Regions from separate parts of the Homo sapiens genome. Here region 2 is linked to region 1. Evidence: fine-mapped expression QTL. A gene starts in region 1. The other region holds a variant in brackets. All regions are shown on one strand. Distances are between the middles of the regions. Region 1 holds the start of PPP1R3C (protein phosphatase 1 regulatory subunit 3C). Region 2 overlaps HECTD2-AS1 (HECTD2 antisense RNA 1).

Region 1 (4,275 bases):
TGGATCATCCAATTTAGAGGTTTATTGAGTGAGTGTTGAGTCCTTTTAGGAGAAAGCATGGTCTCCCTGAATCTTCCATTTGAAGGAGCTGAAAGGGAGAGTGACTTCTATGGCATTAGTCAACACCAGGGGGCAGGAGAGAAAGCTGTATGAATGGAACAGGCTGAAAGGGTGGTGTGAGTAAATGGCACAAGCATGTGAAAATTTCCACCACGGTTCTTGGCACCTAGCAGTACGCTATATGTGTTAGTTGAATCCCAGAGTTTTAACGCCCTTGAAAAATTATTTCTTAATTAGGTCGTGTATGTTCATTGTAGAAAAATTAAGAAAAACAACAGAGCAGCAAAACAACGAAGACATTTTTAATCACTCATAATCTCACCATTCCAAAATGAACTGTTCACATTTCTGTAGAGCACATTCTGTTTTCTATGCATGGATACCTTTCCCTCAAAATGCGATCACCATAAATTGTTATTCATGTTTCTCCATAGTTTTAACTGGTAATATTTACTATTTAGCTCAACATATAATCATGGGTAGAGGAAAAGAATACCCAGGGTTCTAGTTTTGGCTCAGACCTAGCCAGCCCCTGGCAAGCAGCTTGACCTGTCTAAGCTTTCAGTTCCTCATCTGTGAAATAAAGAGTTTGATGCCTATCACCTCCTACCTCCATAATTCTAACCATTGATGGGTCATTAAAATAAGACAATATGGTGCAGCGGTTATTGCTCTGGTATCAGCCAGGCTCTAATCCCTGCTCTACCTGTGAGAACCTGGGCAGGTTTTTTTTTTGTTTTTTGTTTTCGAGATAGAGTCTCGCTCTGTTGCCCAGGCTGGAGTGCAGTGGTGCAATCTCAGCTCACTGCAACCTCCGCCTCCCGGGTTCAAGCGATTCTCCTGCCTCAGCCTCCAGAGTAGCTGAGAGTACAGGTGTGCACCACCATGCCCGGCTAATTTTTGTATTTTTAGTAGAGATAGGGTTTCACCATGTTGGCCAGGCTGGTCTTGAACTCCTGGCCTCAAGTGATCCACTGGGCAGATTTCCTGACCATTCAGTGTCTCCGTTTTCTTTTCTCTAAAATGGGATTAATAATTGGACATATCACATAGGGTTGTTGTGAGGATTGAATTGATAGCACATAGTGTTTGGCACAGAGTAAAGGCTCAACAAGCAGCAGCTATTCTCAATATTTTAGCTCAGGCACCAGGCGCCTTGAGGTGATAGAGTAAAAACTCTAGCTGAGAGATCAAGTAGAAACTTGGGAACTAGCCCGGGTGGAACACAGGCACTGGGCATCGTGCTGAGTCTGTTCATTGGCACCATCTTACTTCATCTTCAGAACGTTACTATCTCTGTTTTACACATGAGGAAACTGAGGTTAGAACTTGCCTAGATTCGTGTAGCTAGTAAGTGTCAATCCAAAGACCTTCCAGCTAGTTTTGGTTGAGCTAAAGGGGCTAGAAGACCTGCCATTAGTTAGATATTTCATTTCAAAAATAAAACCCAGGCATGAAGTCCCTTTCCCAGTGATATTCAGTGTGATTTTTTTCTTCACTCTAATAATTTTAACAATTCCACTGTTTGACAGTTGTTTAAAAGACATAGGAATTTTTGTATATTTTAATTGACTAATGGATAGCTCAATTAGGGGAGCAAAACTAGGATGTGGGTTTTATAAAAATAATTTAGACTTGACTTAGACATTTAATTTTACAGTTGTAAATGATGGTCTAAAAATTCTTCAAACTAATCAAAATAATGAAACTTCAGCGAAAGTGAGTGGCTCAGAAGGCCCATGAAACATACGGCGTGATTTTTTAAATTTTATTTTAACATTTTGATTTCCACACCACTGCCAAAGGACGTCAGAATTGAGTAAGGGGTTTGGGTTGACTGCTGCCTCTTGACCGGCTGTATGTGTGAAAAGGGTCATTTCACTTCCGGCTTTAGTGTTCCCCGCAGGGGAGAAAATTGAAGAATAGACAGAAATACGAAGTGTCTTTTAATTAAATGCCACCTTGGTGTTTTATGGGGCTCGTATGCTTTCCTAACAACATTTGTTAGATAAGTTGGTAATTCCCGGCAGCTGTCTACTGTGTGGTGCATCTGTGAACTCATACTAATCGAAAAGCATGCAGCCAGTTTGGGATCGCGCAGGCTAAGGTGAGGGAGAAATGCGGATACACCGGGTAATGAACGATATAAACATTTCAAATGCGATACACATTCGGTTTGAGCCACATCTTCTGTGTGCAGATTCACCCGCAGTGACCCACAAAGCTATTCCCAAGTAACAGCCGCCCCAAGCCTGAGGCACTGGCGCCCCGCCTGGGCGAGGCTGGCTGCGCTCTCTCTTGGCCGGCGCCCGCTGCATGCGGTACGTGCCTGCCCGGCCCCTAGCCCAGGGTTCCCGTTACGCGGCTGGTTCCAGCTGGCCGCGGAGTCCCAGAACCTCCCCGCGATGCCCAGATAGCTCTCTGCACGTCTCGCCCCGGGGCGATCACGTTGCCGGGGCGAGGGCTGGCGCCCCAGCTGGGCGCTGGTTGGTCGCGCCCTGGGGCTCGAGGCCCGGCGATTGGTCCCAGGGATCGGGTCACGTGCTTGGGAGCAGATAAGCGGCCTCTAGGCGCCGGGCCCTCAGTCTCTCCCAGCGACCGCCGCGGGGGCAAGGCCTGGAGCTGTGGTTCGAATTTGTGCAGGCAGCGGGTGCTGGCTTTTAGGGTCCGCCGCCTCTCTGCCTAATGAGCTGCACCAGGTAGGTTCGCTGCAACTCTGCGCGCTAGGAACACAGGGGAACGCGCAGCTGTGGGGAAGTTGGGGGGCGTTTCAGTTCTATCATCTCTGGAAATGGACACCCCAGGGGGAGGACAAGTGGACTGACTGCGTAGTTGAATCTGGCAACCGAGAGGCCTTGGAGGTGTAGAAATTTGGCTCTATTTCTTAAGCAGAGCCTATTTTAGTAATCAGCATCTTAAAGCAGAAATTATCTTAACGTGAATCAGCTTGAGTTAGGATTTTCTCATGGATGCGGCTGTTCTTTTGGTCCTGCACAAATGTCCCAAAGACTCGGGCAGCTGAAGTGGTGAGAACAGCACTCTGACATTGCTGGTTAGGTGGTTTAGCTTGGAGGAAAAAAATTACAGGACGACGTTTGCATTCATTCGTCCTTCTTATCACAGTTTGCCATAGCAAAATCTCAAGAGTTTGAGCAAACGATTACTTTTAACTCTTGTCCAGGACTTAAAGTTCCAAGGAAATCACCCAAACTAAAACTGTCTTTCTATAAATGCAAAAAGTAAAAAAAAAAAAACAAAAAAACCAAAAAAAACCTCCCATAAAACTACTTTAAATAGCTTCTCCAGACATAGCTTAGCAGAAGACTTCTCTAAAAATCCTGCCTATTAACTATTATTAGACCCACAAATATAGCTTTAGCTTTCATTTGTTTGTTCTAAGTTTGCAGATCTCCCAGAAAAACCCCAGAGCTAACACAGTAAATTCTGCGAGTGTTATTACACACTTTTGTGATAATGACCACTTGCATACATGTTTAGAGCTGCTGTGAGGAGAGTTACTAAAGCCAGACTGAGAAATGTCGTGTACAGTATACACACACCTCTTACTTGTAAGGCTAAGATAGGGAAAAAAATCTTAATACCATAAGCTTGGAAATATATGATGAGGGCTAAAGGTCAGAGAAAAGTCTTCTTTATAGATGCTTCTTGGTTTAATATTGCTGAGCATAGTCATGTTTAAAACTTTAAATGGTTTTATTGTCTTTCTACTTATAAATGTCTATTAGAAAATGCCAAAAAAGAACAAAAACGAAAATAGATAATCTATAATCCTATCACCCAGAAATAATAATTATTAAATTATTAGGAAAGGTGTATTTCCTATAGAGTTTTTCAATATTTATAAGTTTGTATATATAAAATGTATATTTTAAAACACTCCAACTTTCAGGTAATCAGTTTTTCCACTTAAATGTGGACTTGTCATGGGCATCTCTTTAGGTGAATTATCAATTATATAGTTTTTAAGTGCATATGAATTGTTGGCTTGTATTTCAGTGGTTATTTGTGAAAAATAAGAGCATGATAATCAAAGTGCAAAGATGATTCTTTGACTTCTTCTCTAGCCTTCTCACTCTCAAAACTGTTGCATGTTATTTTTTTTTTTTCAAGTGAATTACCTTACCAGAGAAGTGTCAATCAATTTAGCAGCAAAATAAGCCAACGTAGCCAGAGGGAGCAGAGGGTCTGGAACTG
Region 2 (4,275 bases), 25 kb after region 1:
TGATGAGGTGGGTAGAGAGGTGAGAACAGAGACAGAGCAGACCCACCTGGATCTATGCCAAGCCCCAGTGGCAGCAAGTCTTGGCTACTCTGGGAGGGCAGAGGGCTTGGGATCAGATCTGAGATGGAGGTTTAAACTGGTCTTGACTAAACTGAATAGCTGAAAGTGACAGGAAGTAATGGAAACTGTGAGATATTTTAAAGGGGGGGAAAGAGGAGGAGATGATTTGACATAGCAAGTCAAGGATAGTGGAAAAAAATGAAAACTACATTGTGTTTATTCTCTGTGGATTTGAAGCTTCTTGGCAAATTGGTCCATTTATTTAATTGTGTGTGCATTTATGAATCGTCTCTTTTAATCAGACTTTAAGTTCTATGAGAGCAGGACATGTGTGTCTTATTGACTGCTTTACCCACTTTACCTAGTATGGAGTCTGGCAAAATAAATGTTGAAGTGAAAAGTAAAAGACACCACTATAGGCATGGGGAAGCTTAATTGGTTATGAATCCTGGCATTCCAGATGTCTGACTAAACCCCCCGGTAGATGCTCTGGAATCTTAGATGATAAAGAACTTTTAGGAAGAGGACCTCAGGGCAGGAGTGAAGAACACGTGCACTATAGCTATACAGACCTGGGTTCAAGACACTGCACCCCATACTCTACACTCCTGTCACATAACGTAACATTAGAGCTTCACTTTCCTCCTCTGACATGCCTTGATCATGTTTACCCTTCAGGATTCTTGTGGAATTTAAGTGACATTATGCATGTAAAGGCCTCTGGATTAAAGGGAACTCTTGTACACTGTTGGTGAGAATGTAAATTAGTACAGCCATTTTGGAAAGCGGTATGATGGTTCCCGAAAAAATGGAAAATAGAACTACCATATGATCCAGCAATCCCACTTCTGGGTGTACATCCAAATGAATTGAAATCAATACGTTGAAGAGATATCTGCACTCCCATGTGAATTGCAGCATTATTCACAATACCCAAGATATGGAAATAACCTAAGTGACCATCAATAGATGAATGGATAAAAATTTTAGTATATATACACAACAAAATACTATTCATCCTTAAGATAGAAGAAAATTCTGTTATTTGTGATGACAACATGAATTAACCTGGAGGACATCATGCTAAGTGAAATAAGCCAGGCACAGAAAGATAGATCCTATGTGATCTCACTTAGAATGTGAAATCTAAAAACTTCAAACTCATGGAAGTAGAGAGTAGAATGGTAGTTATAAGAGGCTGATAGGTGGGGGCAGATAGGGAATGGGGAAATGTTGGTCAAGGTGTACGAAGTTTCATTTTTAGACAGGAGGAGTCAGTTCTGGGGATCTGTTGCACAGCATGGTGGCTATAGTTAATAATAATATATTGCATATTTCAAAATTGCTAAAAGATAGATTTTAAATGTTCTCATCACAAAGAAATCGTAAGTATGTGAGTTGATGAGCCTGTTAAATTAGCTTGATTTGATCATTCTACAATGTATACATATATCGAAATATCACATTGTACCCCATAAATATGTACAATATTTGATAATTTTGAAAATAGATAATGTGGCTCAAACCATAAGAAATTTTTGGAGTAGCCAACTTGAAACTTACAGCTTTAAGGCTAAGAACTTTGAGAGTGTGGGTGTGGGGTGCCCAATTCTATATATGGGAATGATGAGGAGAAGCTAAAGGACTTTTCAAGTGTGTGATGTAGGAGTCAGGTGGAGATTACATATGGGAAAAGGCTTTGCAAACCATGAAGTGAGGAAAAGTGTTCACACACTTATAGCCAGAACACTGCAAGAGTTAATAATGGTCCTATTGCAGGCTCAGGGGCCTATCGTTTATTTATAGAAATGCCTTGGGGAGTTACAGATGGGGAGGGAAAGCAAAGAATGTGTTTCTGTGCATGCCTGTGTGTGTGTGTGTGTGTGTGTGTGTGTGTGTGTGAGAGAGAGAGAGAGAGAGAGAGACAGAGAGACAGAGAGAGAGAGAGAGAGAGAGAAATGTACAGGTTTAGCTTTTTCTGAGTTTCTATTTAACACACACCCCCTACCTCCTCCCTTCTCCCTTTTCTACCCCCTTATCTCCAGGCTGTCTCAGTGTCACCTCCTCCGGCCAGTTCCTTCTGGACACCTTGTCTGTCCTTGAGCTATCATGTAATCCTTCCGGGTATTGCCTCAGCTAGCGAGAGCCCAGTCCTGGCAGAAGCCACCCTGCAAATAATTCACTGTGAAAGCTGGGCTTGTTCTCTTCAAAGGGTAAAGTGGGCTAACGAGAAGGGACGAGAGCGTCCCCTGCCCCACCTCCACTCCCTCACAAGTTCTCTTTGGAAACTACCCTTCCCCTTCCTGGGATGACCTCTGTCCTTAATGAAATGGGAGAAACAGAATGTCAAGACTTGT[T/C]TCCTTTCCAAATAAAAGAGGAACGCGCTGAAGTGCATTTTAAATGCTGTCTGGCAAGAGTGGCGGGTTGGGGGAAGGGAGGAGGCTGACTTGCCTTTCTTTGCTAGATATCTGGGCACTTGGCCCACACGCTCTTTCTCCGTGAGATTTGAAGGGCAATGTGTCATTCTGGGAGAGGTCTGCAGTTTCTCCAAATATAAACTTTGCTGTTCTTAGGGTCATCATGTACAAGGGCAGTTGTGTTCATAGAACATATTAGGATTTAGAGGGATAGATATTAAGTAGGAGACCCCAAAGAAGTTTTGGGTCAGATTCCTGCTCTACTCCAGGGCCAGGGCCTATGCCCAGGACAGTGGAAAATAAAAGGAGTGCTTAAAATATTGGGAGCTGTAAGGAGTTGAATGAAAGGAGCACCCTTAAGGGATAGGGTGTCTGGGAACAGCTTCTTAAGTGGCAATATGAAGGATGGGTGGAGTTTGGACAGACACAGAGGAAAAGACGGTGTTTCTGGAAGCCACAGAGCACGAAAAAAGGCAGGAGGTGGCAATGACTATGGTGTGGTGGGAAAGCAGAGAGAAATGTGGTTGGCCACAGTCTGGGGCTGTGATGAGGATGAATGTAGCCAAATGATGGAGGTTGAGGAAAGTAGTCTTTTTAAAATTTAGGTAAAAGGGAGACAGACTGAAATTTGTCTTTCTCTGGATGCAATGCAATGTGAGCAGAGGATTAAAAAGTGGCCGGATGACTCAGGGAGACAGAGAGGTCAGTTGGGGGAGTCATTGTAGTAGCTCAAGTGAGAAGAGATAAAAACCTGGACTGAGGATGGCCAGTGAGCCTGACTGGATTAAGAGGAGCAAGGCAGCCCAGCCCCTCTGAGTGAGCTGCTTTTGTGGCCTTCTAGTACAGAATGAGAAGAGGTTCTTGGCTGGGCTAGCTTGGCCATAGTTATCTAGGGACTGGAAAGTGGCTTTCTGCTTATGTGAATGACTTGTATGACAGTACTGGATGCAATGCGCTCTTGATGTTTCCTCTTCAACTCAAGAGTATAGCGTCTGTGGCTGTTTGTTTCTAATTATTTCTTTTGTAGTTGGCAGTGATGGCCAAGAATTGGAGGTCAGTGAGCATGCTTTTTGTTTGGCTCAGTGAGTGGGTTTTGATTTTTTGTGGGAGATTGTATTCTCAGAATTTCAATTGCTAACTTTCTTTTCATTAGACAGGAGTCGTGTATTTACTGACCTTTTTTTAAAGAGCCTGTGAAACAGTGATGATTTCTGAGCAGTCAAAATGGTGATGAAGAATTTGCATTTATTATTGCCATCTTGATGTGCTTATCTCTTTTTTATTTTATTTTATTATTATTATACTTTAAGTTTTAGGGTACATGTGCACAATGTGCAGGTTAGTTACATATGTATACATGTGCCATGCTGGTGTGCTGCACCCATTAACTCGTCATTTAGCATTAGGTATATCTCCTAATGCTATCCCTCCCCCCTCTCCCCACCCCACAACAGTCCCCAGAGTGTGATGTTCCCCTTCCTGTGTCCATGTGTTCTCATTGTTCAATTCCCACCTATGAGTGAGAATATGCGGTGTTTGGTTTTTTGTTCTTGCAATAGTTTACTGAGAATGATGATTTCCAATTTCATCCATGTCCCTACAAAGGACATGAACTCATCATTTTTTATGGCTGCATTGTATTCCATGGTGTATATGTGCCACATTTTCTTAATCCAGTCTATTATTGTTGGACATTTGGGTTGGTTCCAAGTCTTTGCTATAGTGAATAGTGGTGCAATAAACATAGGTGTGCATGTGTCTTTATAGCAGCATGATTTATAGTCCTTTGGGTATATAC

The links. PIP is the estimated chance that this variant, and not a neighbour inherited with it, causes the effect.
Region 2: its variant is the best candidate, but not a certain one, in a credible set for the expression of PPP1R3C in lung (TOPMed, PIP 0.89).

The regions. Positions count from the first base shown.
Region 1 is chr10:91,631,440-91,635,714 of GRCh38, reverse strand. PPP1R3C (protein phosphatase 1 regulatory subunit 3C) reads left to right here and starts at 2,644. Exons shown (of 2, transcript NM_005398.7): 1 at 2,644-2,759. The coding sequence starts at 2,746. RefSeq lists enhancers at 2,012-2,511, 2,512-3,013 and a silencer at 2,538-2,677.
Region 2 is chr10:91,606,890-91,611,164 of GRCh38, reverse strand. The region is part of intron 1 of HECTD2-AS1 (HECTD2 antisense RNA 1); the gene reads left to right. Among named protein-coding and RNA genes, the nearest start is that of HECTD2-AS1, 2.4 kb to the left of the region's middle. The variant T/C (reference allele first, on the strand shown) is at 2,418.